Regions from separate parts of the Homo sapiens genome. Here region 1 is linked to region 2. The links come from fine-mapping of genetic effects on gene expression. Tissue or cell type: liver. Region 2 holds a variant in brackets; the other region holds the start of a gene. All regions are shown on one strand. Distances are from middle to middle.

The links. PIP is the estimated chance that this variant, and not a neighbour inherited with it, causes the effect.
Region 1: it holds the start of TACC1, and the variant in region 2 is fine-mapped to the expression of TACC1 in liver (GTEx, PIP above 0.99).

What each region holds. Positions count from the first base shown.
Region 1 is chr8:38,783,239-38,791,339 of GRCh38, forward strand. TACC1 (transforming acidic coiled-coil containing protein 1) reads left to right here and starts at 3,998. Exons shown (of 13, transcript NM_006283.3): 1 at 3,998-4,505; 2 at 5,466-5,581. The coding sequence starts at 4,345. RefSeq lists an enhancer at 3,602-3,681 and a silencer at 3,722-4,261.
Region 2 is chr8:38,730,629-38,738,729 of GRCh38, forward strand. It overlaps a transcript of TACC1 not described here. Among named protein-coding and RNA genes, the nearest start is that of TACC1, 53 kb to the right of the region's middle. RefSeq lists enhancers at 3,781-4,280, 4,861-5,360. The variant A/G (reference allele first, on the strand shown) is at 3,989.

The DNA of each region.
Region 1 (8,101 bases), 53 kb after region 2:
AAGCAAACTTTTCTTCTGTGATACAGAAGAAAACAGATCAATGGGTGGATATGACAAGAGTTGTTCACCAGAGCAAAGTCTGGGCAAGGGTCTTTCAGCAGACCCCAGGTGGGGGGCTCAGCCAAGTCTTTAATAAATGCAGTTTGGATCTTTGTTAATCTTCCTGGAACTCTGAAAGAGTATTTTCTTTTTTTTTTTTTTGAGATGGAGTCTCACTCTGTTGCCCAGGCTGAAGTACAGTGGCATGATCTCGGCTCACCGCAATCTCTGCCTCCCCGGTTCAAGTGATTCTCCTGCCTCAGCCTCCCGAGTAGCTGGAATTACAGGCGCCTGCCACCACACCTGGCTATTTTTATATTCTTAGTAGAGATGGAGTTTCACCATGTTGGCCAGGCTGGTCTCATACTCCTGACCTTAAGTGATCTGCCTGCCTTGGCCTCCCAAAGTGTGGGATTGCAGGCATGAGCCACCGCACCCAGCCTGAAAGAGTATTAGCTATGAACATACCCTGACACCTCTCTTTTAAAAAATTAGAAAGGAGCTTCTCTTTATAATTTTCTGTATAAATGCATTGTACACAGTCCTGATTTCGGTGTTTGGGTAGTGGAGGGAAGATTGTAATTCTATAGATGTTTGTAGTCTACAGGTAAAGGATAATTAGGTAAATATCTGATCTTGCAAGGTTAAGACTGTCATGTTAACATATTTGAATGCGGTCAGATGCTGTTATTGGCAATGTTGTCTTGATTAGACATCATCATGCCCTTGCCTGGTTAGACTGAGGTAGGGCAGAAAAGCAGATAGGGTGGCCACAGCCTCCTGTTGGCAATGGCACGTCTTCACTGACAGGGCTAGAGTGTTCCTAGTTGTGACTTTGCAACCTGTACCAGGTAAGAACGAAGCCAGGACTAGGAGCAGCAGACTGAGAGGAGTGGTCCAGCTAATGGACTCATATTCATTACTGCTTACACTAAGTTCAAGAACTTGCAGAGGAGTGATTTTCAGAAACCTTAGGCATTTATTTGCTAGTCCAGTCTCAAGAAGTTGCTGCAGGCCGGGTGCGGTGGCTCACACCTATAATCCCAGAACTTTGGAAGTGGGTGGATCACCTGAGGTCAGGAGTTCAAGACCAGCCTGGCCAACATGATGAAACCCCGTCTCTACTAAAAAATAAAAAAATTAGCTGGGCATGGTGGCAGGAACCTGTAATCCCAGCTACTTGGGAGGCTGAGGCAGGGAGAATCGCTTGAACCCAGGAGGCGGAGGTTGCAGTCAGCTGAGACTGCACCACCGTGCTCCAGCCTGGGTGACAGAGTGAGACTCCATCTCAAAAAAAAAAAAAAGTAAATTGCTGCATAGGTGAGGCTTAATCTTACTGGGGCCATCACTTGGTCCTGGGTTCTGTTATTTTCTGGCCCAGAAACTAGATTTCCCCAGGGGGAGTCAGGCTTTAGGAATTTATGTCACCTTAGCCAAACTCACAAGGACTATTTGTAAACTAGAATGTTTGTTTTTTCTTACATATATATTGAACACCTACTGAGTGTGTGGTTCTGTCCTAATTTCTGGAGGAAGTCCCAAAGGGGGGTAAAGTCCCTTTAGAAGCTTGTGGGACAGATATGTAAATAAATATGTTATATATGGTGTGCTAAGTGTAGAATGGCCTTACATCCTGGTCTTCTGGAGACAGTCCTGGTTTATGCCTATAGTCCCTGTGTAACTATTAAGAATGCTGTCTTTCACTTTCAGATCTAAGGCCACAGGAAGTGTTCTTTATGGATGTTCGGGGTATAGAAATGATAGAAAGGAAGGACAATGAGCCTGCTTCCCCCTGTAGACACTTGAGCTAAGTGCTGAAGGACGTTCGAGCAGCTGAAGCCTGGGAACTTGGGGTGGGCTGGGGTGGGGGAGGAGGTGTGTTCCAGGAATTCGCAAAGCTCCCTCTGCAGGCAAAGGGAGACTGTTCCCGAAGCAGTAAGCAGTTGGTTCAAGCTAGGCACTGTTTCCCAAATTTACCCTGTGATAACAGTTCCCCAGGACACTTAGTGAACACACAGATTTCCAGACTCTGCTGGCAATTTGGATTTTTTTAAGAAGGCTGGCGGATGATTCTTGGGCATATTAAAGATTGACAACGAGTTCTCTACTCACTGTGGCTAGGAATACAAAAGGATGGGCATAGAGGGGAATGGGAACCGAAAGATTAGAGCACGAGTCACTGATCAGCCAGGCAGGGGTGACCTCAGGCAAGAAAACCTTCAGAGGTAAAACCAGGTGGGAGTTATTTACAGTAGATCATGAAAGATGGGGAGTGCGGGAACTATGTCAGTCACCACAGGGATGCAAAGGAATGAAAAGATAAGAGAACTATTCAGGAGGAAGAACAGGTCCTAGTGTATGCTAGTTACTGATTTGCTGGGGTAATATTATTTCCCAGAAACAGAACCCTGTGTCAAATCCAGGAGCCTGGGGGACTGTAGAACCTGAAGTTTTACTGGGTAAGCATAAACCTAAAACTACAACAGTTGGATAAGTGGTGTGATATATTTCACATGGACCTCCTGCCTAGTTCACTTCTTTATAGTCGCTAGAACACTCATGACAATTTATTTCTGGGAAGAAGCCAGGATGAATTCGAAAGCATCCTGACACCCCACCCCTTTCTTTTCTCTAGACTTCAGGTTAACTCCTGCCCTTCGGTTTTGGTAAAACTACCCTGCCAAGCCTTATCTTGTATTTTGCTCCTGTTTTTGTTATCAAATGTGTAAAACAGTCACGATGAATATACATGCCAACTGCTTTCAGAGGCAACGGTTAGTCTCTTGCAAGTTTCAACGTGCACATTTTGGAGCTGCTGTCTCTGTGGGAACCTGCAGGCACCTCATGGATGCACCACAACTCGGAAATTACAGTACCACCTGGAACACCTTATCCAGGCAAGGAGATCATTAAGCCTGGTGTTTGAGGCAATCGATTCACTTGGAAGAAGGTGCTTTGGTGGTTTTGAGAGGAACAATCCCTACATGAAATCCCTCCATGGGAAATGGAGAACATCAGCTATTTCCCATTGCCTTCAAACCTAAAGATGTCGCCAGGCCTCTTGGCTTGTTACTGAAGCAGCGAAATAAGTCAGAAATCAAAGACTTAGAAGTTACGAAAAGAAAATCTCAAAAAGGAGAATGGGGTCAGGCGCGGTGTCAGGCCTGGAATCCTAGCATTTTGGGAGGCAGAGGCGGGAGGATCGCTTGTGGCCAAGAGTTCAAGACCAGCCTGGGCAACATATCGAGACGCCTGTCTGTATTTTAAATAAATAAATATGGAGAATGGGAAACCCATCAGGCTGTAATCTCACAGGGAATTTAGTACCCTTTACCTAAGACAAGACCTGGGCACTTGGGAAGCCTCCCCGAGTGCGGTTTGGGGAGGGGGAGGGCATCTTAAATTCCAGTCCTCGGTCACTCTTGTGGCTTTGCCAAGGGATTTTCAAATCCCGGGAATGCCAGGGATGGAGATGAACAGGCTGAAATCCCCCACGCTGCCAGGGTTAGGGAGGGGAAAACAACAGTCCACAGCGGCCGCGAAGGTTTGTATTTTTTTTTTTTTGGTAACAAGGGGCTTGTGTGCAGTCCAATATCACCATCGCCGTGAAGTCACAGTGGCAAGATGAAAATGTTTAAAAAAATTTTAAAAAGGAATAAGGAAAGAGGAAGAGGACAGCGTGCCCCGGCTCAGAAAACGGTCCTCCTCTGCCCCGGACGCCGGCGGACCTGTGGGGTATGACCGAATCTCCCCGCGCAGCCGGCAAGCCCCGGCCCTCAGTCGGGCCGCGACCAGCGTGACGCCGCGGTAGGGGGATCCGGCGGGCGCGCGGCCGTCTTCAAAGCCCCGGCGCCGCCGCCGCCCCCGCGCGCGCGCGCGAGTAGTACGGTCCGAGGGGGCGGCTTCTGGGGCGCGGCTCCGGCGGCAGCTGATGCGCGCCCCGCCGGCCGGGAGGCGGGAGTCCGCGAGCCGGGAGCGGGAGCAGCAGAGGTCTAGCAGCCGGGCGCCGCGGGCCGGGGGCCTGAGGAGGCCACAGGACGGGCGTCTTCCCGGCTAGTGGAGCCCGGCGCGGGGCCCGCTGCGGCCGCACCGTGAGGGGAGGAGGCCGAGGAGGACGCAGCGCCGGCTGCCGGCGGGAGGAAGCGCTCCACCAGGGCCCCCGACGGCACTCGTTTAACCACATCCGCGCCTCTGCTGGAAACGCTTGCTGGCGCCTGTCACCGGTTCCCTCCATTTTGAAAGGGAAAAAGGCTCTCCCCACCCATTCCCCTGCCCCTAGGAGCTGGAGCCGGAGGAGCCGCGCTCATGGCGTTCAGCCCGTGGCAGATCCTGTCCCCCGTGCAGTGGGCGAAATGGACGTGGTCTGCGGTACGCGGCGGGGCCGCCGGCGAGGACGAGGCTGGCGGGCCCGAGGGCGACCCCGAGGAGGAGGATTCGCAAGCCGAGACCAAATCCTTGAGTTTCAGGCAAGTACACGGCGTCCCCGCTGAGATGCAGACGCGCTTGCCTCCATCCATCTGCGACTCCCTCTGTGTGCGTGTGTGTGGTCGCCACCCGCGAAACCGTCCTCACGGCCGTGCCGCGTCCCTGCCCGGAGCCGGGTCCCCGTGTGCGTCCGAAAGTTCAGGATCTTCTGTCCTCCCGTGGGGTTTCTGGCCCCCGTTTCGCTAGGAGAGTTCCGCACCCAACCCAGAATCTGCAGTCTCTCCGCATCCCCGCTGGCCTCGGTCACTTTCTCTAAGCTTCGACCCCCAGCCCCCGCCCCTCCACACTGGAGCAACGTCACTGATCTAACCCAGTGCAACTTAGGGCCCCCCCGTGGGGAAGAAGTCGCTCCCCGGCCCTTCCCGGGGCCCTACCGTGTACCCAAAACGCAGCCGCGGTGAAGAAGGTCGCGTGATGACAGGCCCCTGGCAGCTGCTGGGAAATGGTGGTCTCTGCCGGGCTGTCATCCGCGTGATTGCGGAAGGCAGGTGACACCATTCTTAGCCTCGGGCCCAGGGAGTTCCAGCAGGTAGAGGCCTACCGAGCAAAGAGGAATGCCTAGCATCGGCCTAACTCGGGGGTGGGACCAGTATTAATTGTTAAAGCCTCTGGGAAAGGGCTCTTGTGACAAAAGGAGTCTGTTGGAAAAGCGCATTTTTCAGGTGTCTGAGGGAAGGATGACCTCGAAAATAAATGGTGCTGGAGAAAAGCTCCAGGGAATGGAGGAGCTTTCAGAGAGACAGGATGCCAGCCTGAGAAACCCAAGGAGGGCACTGCTCAGAGACCGCAGTTGCCTCCCGCAGGTCAGACCCTGCTGAGGACCGGTTGGTTGTGAAGTTAGACAAAAGTGCTGGACTTTTAGCCTCTGTGAATATGTAGATTTCAAAGGGTGTCGGAAATACCGTTGAAAGTGGTAATTCCTCATTTTTCCTCCTTGGCAGCTCGGATTCTGAAGGTAATTTTGAGACTCCTGAAGCTGAAACCCCGATCCGATCACCTTTCAAGGAGTCCTGTGATCCATCACTCGGATTGGCAGGACCTGGGGCCAAAAGCCAAGGTAAAGAAAAACTTGCATTTTTCCTGCCTGTTTTGTTTCAAAAGTTTTGAAAAATATCAATGAAGGAAGGAAAAAAGTGTAAATTTAGGACCATTTAAGAGAGTTTGACTAAGAAAGAGCTGTTTGAAACCTCCTGGCTTATGTATTTTTAGGGGTGTGGTGATCGAGGCTTTCTCCTCTGAGTAGAGTTTGTGCATTTGCAGTATAAGATTATCATTATCAAACATTCCTACTAGGCCTTTCTCCTCAGCCCCTAAAAAAATATGTATAGTAATGAAGTAGGAAGATCATGTTTATATTTGACTTCACAAATTCCTCAGGCTAAGTTGCTTTCTACTGGGGTGTGGCTGGAGACAAAAATTACAGGTAAGACTTGACTTAATTTTTGATAGGGAGGTTCTTAAGAGGCTTTTTCGGAATCACTCACCTCGCCCACTTCCATGCAGGGATGTGGTGAGAGCCCTTCAGTCTACTTAGGAAAACCTGGCACATGGATTCCCTCCCAGCCCCTCAGAGCCCAGCCCTTCATCTGCAGGAGCTTCCGTTGTCTCACTTAATTAGTAGAAACCTTTTTTGTCACACAGCCAGTTCAGAATAAAATTTCACCTATCCCAACAGAATTCATATGCTTATTTACTAAATAGAGTGCACTGTGATTCAGCAGTGAAGTCCTGCTCTCTCGAGCTAACATTGTGGAGGGAGAACCTGTGAAGGGTTAAGCAAAATATCTATGTCAGCTTGTGTGAAGCACTGTGGAGAAAAATAAAGCAGGGGAAGAGAATAGGGAATATGGAGTGGGGATAGGGAAGGCTGAAGGGGAGTTAGTGGGGGCATTCATGATTAGGTGACTTGAACAGAGACCTGAAGGCAGATTGAGGGAGCAGGCCTTGGAGGTTCCTGAGGTGGGAACCCTTCCAGCAGAAGGAGTGGCATCTGCAAAGGTCTGACAGCACCAGCCTGCTGCAGGGAGGCCGTAAGGTGGAGGGTTCATGGTACAGTTTGAGGACCAGCCAGGAGGTCAGTGTGGACTGACTACTCAGAGAGCAGGAGGAGCTGAAGTCAGCGTGGTCAGAGGAGGTCCAGATGCTGCTGCAGTGAGGATTTGGTTTTCAGTAAGGTGGAAAGCCACTGGAGGGCATATGCATTTCCAAGGGCTGCCATAACAGAGTAACTTAGCGGCTTACAATAACAGAAATTATTCTCTCACAGTCCTGGATAATTGAAATCAGAACCAGAAGTCTCAAGTCAAGGTGTTGGCAGGGCCTTGCTCTTCTGAAGGCTCCAGGAAGTCTGTCCTTGCCTCTTCTAGCCTCTGCTGGGTGTCTGCAATCCTTTGTGTTCTTTGGCTTGTGGCAGCAGAACTCCAGTCTCTGTCTCAACACATGGCCATCTTCTCCCTATGTATCTGTCTTACCGTGCCCTTCCTGTGAGGACACCAGTCGTTGAAGTTAGGGCCCACCCTAATCCAGTTTGACCTCATCTTAACTTGGTAACATCTTCAGAGATACTATTTCTAGATAAGGTCACATTCATAGGTACTAGGAGTTGGGACTTTAACATATCATTTTGAGAGACATAATTCAGCCCACAACAGAGAGCTTTGAACAGAGGGATTGTGATTCAGCTTCTTTTGTAAAAGGCTCCCTGGGCTGCTGTGTGGAGAAGGGACTCTAGGATGGAAGTCCTTTTTATGTGGTTTCTCTGTTCCAGTATCTGGCACTGTCACCCTGAAGTGGCAGCGCCAGCTTTCAGTTATCTAGCTACCTAAACTTTGTGCTGATTGTGACTTTCTCCTCTCCCTAATAAGTATTTTTATTGCTTAGCAACTTCTTCGTAGGTTGCCTAGGGAAGTCAAGTTACTCTGGTAATAGACTGCATGATGGAGCTGGAATTATTGGTAAAATGACATCAGCAAAAAGCTGATTTGGTTTTGCTTTAAATTGATAGCTCCATGCTGTGCTTACCCAGCTGAGAATTCAGCAATACCCTCAACTTGCCCTAGGCTGCATTTTGCCATTGTTCTAGGCAGGGACAACATGGGAATAGGCAAGCTTATATACTGGAGAATTTGTGTGCGACGCATAGCTGTGTAGCACTCTCAGTGATGAAGATAACACTTATTCCTCATAGCTTCCCTTTTCTTCCGTAAAGATTGGCAGATCAGAAGGGAGATTTTGAAGCTTGAAAGAACTATTTGGTGGCCTTTCCATCAAATTTAAATAAAGCTCATAAGACACATGTTAAGGAGCTGTTTGAAAGCCTTTTTGAATTGCCATCAGCTTGGGCGGCCCTTCCTCATCGTTTTGTCAGCTGCTAGACTGATTCATCCCGCCAGATTCTTTGCCAATTGAATAGAGGCCTGGATGACCTAGGCCCCCAAAACCACAGAGACCCAATTGTTTGGTCCTTCCTGTACCAGTGACTCTCACATTTTTTTCATTCTCTCTAAAAGGAAAACTTTTAAATGTTTATGGATCATGAAGGCTCTATGGGGTAGTTCATGAATGCAGACTGTAATTG
Region 2 (8,101 bases):
GGTGAAGGTGGGGCTGGGGCCCCCTCCCCCTGAGTCTGAGCCATACTGCCTTGAATATTTTTGCAGCCCTGTTTGACAGAAGTAAGAAGGACATTGTTGTGAGTGTGGCTTTTTCGTATTTTGTCGAAGAATGCCCCTGAGAATAGGCTGGGAGGAGCAGGGTCACGGGGCCAGGACGGAATGTTCTGTGGGAAGGAAGAGTGCTCCTAAGAATAAGTGGAGTTAGAATTCTTGTCCAAACTGTATCCCTGATAAACATCACTTTTTCTCTGAGAGGTGGTATAGTTTTTGTTTGTTTGTTTTATTTTTTAGATACAGGGTCTTGCTGTGTCATCCAGGCTGGAGTGCAGTGGTACAGTCCTAGTTCTAGCTCACTGCAGCCTCAACCTCCTGGGCTCAAGTGATCCTCCCACCTGAGCCTCCCCAGGAGCTGAAACTACAGGCATGCACCACTATGCCTGGCTATTTTTTTAAATTTTTTAATTTTTGTGTAGAGATGGGGGTCTCCCTATGTTGCCCAGGCTGGTCTTGAACTCCTGGTCTCAAGCGATCCTCCTGCCTCAGCTGCCCAAAGTGTCAGGATTACAGGCGTGAGCCACTGTGCCCTACCGAGGTGGTAAGGTTCAATGGGAAAGTGCCAGGCTCTGTAGCCAGAGTGCCTGGGTTCACATCTCAGCTCTGTCACATTTTAGCTTGGTCATCTTGGGCAAATTACACAAACCTGTGTGCCTCAGTTTCTTCAAAATAATATCCTCTGGAGAAGGATGATAATAACAGTACCTATTTCACAAAGATATCATGAAGATAAGATTAGTTAATCCACATGAAGCATTTAGAATTGCATCTGGCATATGATAAACACTCAATAAATATGTTATGTGTAAAAGAGGTTGTTGTGTTAACCCAAGGAAAAGTAGTTTGGGAGCAGTCTGGAAATATGAAGTCACTGGTGTTTGAAACTATAAAATGCACACCAACAAATGCAATGTAATTTCAATTTGAGCTGGGGAGAGGAGGATTGTGCTTGGACCCCAGCTAGGAAGGAACCTGGGAGACAGCCTAGGACCTTCAGGGAAGAGCTTAGCTGTTCTCCCAGAGATAAAACTGAAAACAACAACAACAACAACAACAACAACAACAAAACTAGTCTTTAGGGTTGGCATTGCCAAATTACATCCTTGCATTAAATGAAGTAAGTGTAGGCTGGGTGTGGTGGCTCATGCCTATAATCCCAGCACTTTGGGAGGCCAAGGCAGACAGATAACTTGAGGCCAGGAGTTTGAGACCAGCCTGGCCAACATGGTGAAACTCCATCTCTACTAAAAATGCAGAAATTAGCTGGGTGTGGTGCCAGGTGCCTGTAATCTCAGCTACTCCAGAGGCTGAGGCAGGAGAATTGCTTAAGCCCAGGAGGCAGAGGTTGCAGTGAGCCAAGATTGTACCACTGCACTCCAGCCTGGGTGACAGAGCGAGACTCTGTCTCAAAATAACAACAACAAAGAAAAGAAAGAAAAGAAAAGAAAAGAAGAAAGGAAGGAAGGAAGGAAGGAAGGAAGAGGGAAAGGAAAGGAAAGGAAAGGAAAAGAAAATGGTATAAGTGTAATTTATTTACCTTTGTAGTTGTGGAAATGAGTCCCACCTCTGACCTAATGTTATATAAAGCAAAAATATGTTTTTTTCTTGTTTTTTTTTTCAATGCCATCTGCTGAACCACTTGTATTTTTGGAAGGATGACTTTAGGATTTCAAACTGAGATATGAAATTTAAGAGCTAAATATAGCTGATTTAAAACAACAACAACAACAAAAAAAAACCCAGGAGATCAAGACTTACAAAAGAATTGTGTGGCTTTTTCAAAGAACAAATTTGTGAGCTCAGCCTGAGTCTGGATTACATGTATAATGATCTTGAAACTAGTTTGCCAACTTTTACTTGAAGTAGAAGTAGATGAGAAATAAATCAATGGCTGACATTGACTGAGCACTTACTATGACCCAGGCATTGTGCTAAGTGCTTCCCCTGCGTCACCTCATTTGTTTAATCCTCATGGCCGCCTGTCAGGTGAATACTATTATTATCCCCGGTTTGCAAATAGCGATAGCAAGGTTTAGAGAAGGAGACAAAATGCACAAAAGCAGACAGCTCGTAAGCATTGGAGTTGGCATTCTAATTTAGGGCTATCTAATTTGGGTATGAGTGCTTAAACCCAACATTATAGTTCTAGTGAATCTAATAATTCCTGGCTTAAGCCATTTGTGTCTGTTTGAAGAGTACTGTACATAGAAGCTGATGGACAAGAGTCATAACTCTTGCAACATGGGCACAGCGCTAGTGTGGGCAAAACACACTTAGACATTTTGGAGAGCAGAGTTTGGAAGACTCGGCACCGGACAGGAGATGCACGGCATAATTGCATCTGAGCAAGGAGACTGTTCCAGGCAGCTCCAGGTGTAGGTAAAATCGTGAAGCAAGTTGCCTTCTTCACCTTTCTCTCTGCTCTCCTAGAGGCTTCCCTGCTCATCCCAGGCCACTCAAGATATCAGGGATATCTTTTTCTTTTTTCCAGAGATCTCAGTCACACTCTAACAAGACAGAGACGATCCCAGCTGTGGACTCCCACCAAGCCCCGCTCTGCAATAAATACCCTCCATCTCTCATATCCAGAATTGATCCTCTTTTTTTTTTTTGGTCCATCAGAACCCCCTTTAACCAGCACTTGATGTTTAGCAAACTGTTTGAAAGTAATCAATGAATTCATACACTGGTGCAGCTCTCTTGGGGGACTTTTAGGCTTCAGTGTGACAGTGACTAGGGGAGATGCACTTAGGGCAGGGAGATTCCCAGGAAACCCCTGGCCAAATGCCACTGTAGTTATCTGTTCCCTGGTGGGAAAGGCACTCTCCTTTCTGATGGTCTGAGGTCCGGACTGCAGGCTTTTGCTGTGTTCCTTCATAGGAGGCTGCTTACCTGAATTTTCAGAACAATTCCTAGCACCAGCTCAGCAGGGACAGCACCCGGCAGCAGTAGGAAGCGGGTGTGATGTTCTTCCTGGGTGCCCAGAGCCCTCTCCCTCTGTCCTTTTTCTTGGTGGCCCCTCTCCCACCCCATTCCCAGCCTCTCCCAGGCTCCCCTTCCTTCCTCACCTCCAGGAAAGCCTCGAGGCTCTTAATTCACGGGACAACCTTAAAACGCACACTGGCCAAGCATGGGCGTGTTTATAACAAGAATCAAATTATTTTGCTGGAAACAAGAGGACAATGGAATTTAGGAATCAGCAGTTCTGGGAGAGTTTTTTAAAATGTTGGAATTCGGGTCCTCCTTAGACGTCCCTGCCTCAAATAATGCACTGTAAACCGTTCTCATTCATGGCCCATCAGTCATTGCGCAGGGTCCTAGTTTAATAAGTATGGGGAACTGGGGAAAGGAAGGGAAACCTGTTGCTCATCCCAGGCCTCCCAAGATTTTGGGGATGGCAAAGAGGGGAGGGCTTCCACATCTTCTGCACTTTCAGTCTTCTAGAGGCAATGAAGATACCAGATACCTTCTTCTTTAGTTTCAGCCTGTTTGTTTGTTTGTTTTTTCTAGACAGAGTCTTGCTCTGTCACCCATGCTGGAGTGCAGTGGTGTGATCTCGACTCACTGCAACCTCCGCCTCACAGGTTCAAGCGATTCTCCTGCCTCAGCCTCCTGAGTAGCTGGGATTACAGGCACCTGCCACCACACCAGCTAATTTTTGTAGTTTTGGTAGAGACGGGGTTTCACCATGTTGGCCAGGCAGGCTGGTCTTGAACTTCTGACCTCAGGTGATCCGCCCTCGTTGGCCTCCCAAAGTGCTGAGGTTATAGGTATGAGCCACACGCCTGGCCATAAGCCTGTGTTTTTAAAATGAGGTTCCAGGCAGATACAAGCAGAAAGGAAGAGTTGCAAAAGCAGACACGATACAGAACAAAATGCCCCAAGGTAGCAGGGAGGGCTTGGTATGTTTATT[A/G]TGCAACAAAGGACTCTCCTGGCCCTTGGAACTTTCCATAGTTTGACTTTCGGGTTAATCATTACCATCTGCATGGCTGCTGGCAGCCGAGGCTTTGCTTGGCCTGCCGGGCCTGGCAGTCGCGTTGCTGGCCAGCCTGAGGGCTGCACTAGCCATAGTTAGCTGCGATGCCCCCTTGAGTTTCCTGCAGGAACAAGCAAGGGTGCCTGCGGCCTGCTGACGCAGGCTGGCGGGGAGTGGCTTGCCTTAGGCCTGTCTCCTTGTCTCTCACAGCTGGCTCTCCAGGGCCGGTCTGGTTTTCATAGTCTCACGTTTCCTTTTCCAGCACACTTGTGTGTGTCTGCATACCACGTGAGAACACAGCCTGCTCTCTTCCTTGGAGTGGCTGGATTTCCAGCAGGCACCACACGTGCTTGTTCAGATGCAAGGATACGTCATGGAAAAGAGAGGCCTGAATAGATGCATCTTAGTTCATACACAGCTGTCAGGACTTGAGGCACGCATCAGCAGAGCCTGGGAAAAAGCATGAGATCTGCTTTTAGAATCATGAGCACCAGAGCTGAAAGGGATCTTACTCTCTATTCGAAACCCTTCATTTCACAGCTTTGGAAAATGAGGCTTAAGACAGGTGGGGAGTTGCCTTGGGTCACAGAGCAAGGTCCAGGGGTCCTTCTATTTCTTGAAACCAAACTGGTTGTGTGGAGAGTCTTGAGAGGAAGCTAAAGTTACATGGGTGCTGGATTTTTCCATTTGGCCTTAGAAATCACTCTCCACCGTTTTCCACCCGCGCTGTGCCTGGGAGGCTGGCCAGACTGGCACCCTTACATCTGGCTTCCGGGTAGATTTAGCCAGAGGAGGGCACCTGCAGGTAGGTTTAGAGGGAGGGGAGTGTGTCATGGAGGATTTAGTCCACTTCTTCCTTTCCCGCTGCTTCCATGGGCTGGTGGTGTCCGCTGACTGAAGGCCAGGACTCCTGTCAGCAACCACCCCCTGCACTCAGCTCTCTCCCCTGACCCTTCAGGCCTAAGGCAGTGACAGCATCTCCTACAGTGGGCAGCCCTGGGCTACGCTGCTGTCTCCTGTGGCCTCCCAAACCCTCCTCAGACCTTTGTAAATGGTCCCTTTATTAAACCCTCAAGTCAAAGAGAGAGTGTTACCTGCTGGGCTCCTGACTGAAAGAATGGATCCTGACCCACCTGACAGGTGGCTTTGTTTGTTAGCATAAAAGAGAAAATCTGTAGGAAAGGAAGATGTCCCTGAAATTTAGGAAGAGGGTGTGTTAGTTTCCTGTGGCTGCTCTAACTAATGACCACGAACTTGGTAGCTTAAAACAGAACAAAACCAGAAATGCATTCTCTCCCAGTTCTGGAGGAGAAAACTGGGGTCTACCGGCCGGTACTCCCTCCAGTGGCTCCAGGAAATCATCTGGTCCTTGTCCCTTGCCTCCTTTGGTGTCTGGTGGCTGCCAGCATTCCTTGGCTTGTGGCCATGTCCTTTTGATGTTGACCTCCGTGGTGACACTGTGTGTATGAAATCTTCCTTTGCCTCTCTTGTATAATGATGCTTGGGGTTGCATTTAAGGCCCACCCAGATAATTCAGGATAGTCTCCCTCTCTCAGAAATCCTTAATTTCATCACATTAGCAAATACAGTAAGATATTTACAAATAATAAAACATTGTTCCAAATAAGATAACCTGGCTGGGCACTGTGGCTCATGCCTGTGTGGTGGCTCATGCCTATAATCCCAGTGCTTTGGGAGGCCGAAGAAGGAGGATTGCTTGAGCCCAGGAGTTCAAGATTAGCCTGGGCAACACAGTGAGACCCCTGTCTCTACAAAAAATAAAAAAATTACCCGGGCATGGTAGCACACGCCTGTAGTCCCAGCTACTTGGAAGGCTGAGGTAGGAGGATCGCTTGAGCTCAGGAGGTCAAGGCTGCAGGAAGCTATGATTGCACCACTGCACTCCAGCCTGGGCAACAGAGCATGACTCTGTCTCCAAAACAAAAGAATAAGATAATGATAACCTTTACAGGTTCCAGAGATTGGGACCTGATAAATTTGAAGTCATTATTCAGCCTCTGGCAGAGGGTGAGAGAGGCACATCAGAGTTCCTTCAGGACATCTCTAATGGCACACATTTATGGATACCTTCATGCTTGACAAAAGTAGTGACCAGTCTCTGGGGGCAGACACATTTTTGAGGATTCTGTTCAGCTCCATACTCTCTAATTCTCTTATCTTTTTGTCTGGCAGCCAGATATCATTGTGATGGTCCCATTCTGAAGCCAGCTGATTTGTTACCAGGCAAAGCACTCAGAGAAGACAACATAGTGGGCCGCGATGAGGACACAAAAATTGTGGAAGGGCCCAGCGTGGGGACATTTAGGGCATGGAAGTCATTTGACTCAAGGGTTGGATCCTAGAGGTCAAGAATTGGGAGGCCCTAAGAAATGACCTAGCTCAGCCACCTCCTTTACCAGGTGGGGAAAATTAGTCCTGATGTGGGAATTTCCTTATCCGCCGCTGGTCAGTGACAAGGCCCGGACTAAAACAGAAGTCTTGGCACTCAATCTAAGGACTTCTCCTCCGTGCCTCCCTATCACGCCTTCCCACCAACTGGCCTCCTCCCCAGCATCTGTGAGAATTCTTTGTAGGAATTCTACCCCCAATAGTTTCATTTACTGAAAGGCAGTGGGAATGTACTCGATGTCAAGTCTGTGATGCAGCATGAAAGAAGAAACAACACTGGGGACAGTGGCTTCGCTCAGTGCCACTCACAGTGCCAGTTCTCGATGAGATCAGGAGACTGGGCTGGAACAGAAATCTACATCCAGCTTCCTTCATGGAGAAAATCTTGCTGTGGAGGCCAGGCAGGGGAGCAGCAGTGCTTAGTGAGGTAACTGGCTTACCTTCTGCCACAGGCTCCTTATCTCAGCACTGGCCAGTGTGATGGTCCCTGGCTGGAGAACACCAGGAACAGCATTGCCTCACTGCTGCTTGAGCAAACCCACCTCCCAAATAGGGCATGGTGATAGAAGAATATGCAGAAAAGACAACAGTCCCTCTGTCCAGATCCCATCTAGACAATAGAGCTCAGATTGGGAGCCATTCTTTTTTTTTTTTTTGAGATGGAGTTTCGTTCTTGTTGCCCAGGCTGGAGTGCAATGGTGCGATCTCGGCTCACCGCAACCTCTGCCTCCTGGGTTCAAGCGATTCTCCTGCCTCAGCCTCCAAAGTAGCTGGGATTACAAGCATGTGCCTCCATGCCTGGCTAATTTTGTATTTTTAGTAGAGATGGGGTTTCTCCATGTTGGTCAGCCTCGTCTCAAACTTCTGACCTCAGGTGATCTGCCCGCCTCAGCCTCCCAAAGTGCTGGGATTATAGGCATGAGTCACTGCGCCCGGCCTGGGAACCATTCTTTAAGGGAGGTAATGATATTCTAGAGATCTTCCTGTAGTTCCTGACTCACAGAGCACAATTTTTGTGAAGATTAGAAGAGGCTAGGTGTGGTGGCTCACACCTTTAATCCCAACACTTTGGGAGGCTGAGGCAGGAGGAGCCCTTGACGCTAGGAGTTCAAGACCAGCCTGGGCAATATAGTGAGACACCCCCATCTCTCCAAAACATTAAAAAAAAAAATTAGTCGGGCGTGGTGGCAAGTGCCTGTAGTCCCAGCTACTTGGTAGGCTCAGGCAGGAGGATCTCTTGAGCCTGGGAGTTCGAGGCTACAGTGGAGCCTCGGCTTCCCAAAGTGCTGGAATTATAGGTGTGAGCCACCATGCCTGGCTACATAAATTATTTGGAATTCCATCATGGACATTTGTCTCTTCTCTTCATTTATTTATTTGTTTAATCACTAACTTATATTTGTAGGGGCTTGTGGATTTCTTTTAATACTTTGAGTTGTAATCAAATACTGATTTATTAATCTTGTTGCTCAAATTGTTCCAGCTTCGCCCATTGAGCGCTCTCTCATTTGGCTTCTGTGTCCCTTTGCTAGACCCCATTATTGTGGGTCTTGGTGTTGTATTTGTGTTTTGAGCACTTTTTTTTTTTTTAACCTTCTGGTTCTACAAGATACTCCAGGCTCATCTTATATGTTCCCTGAC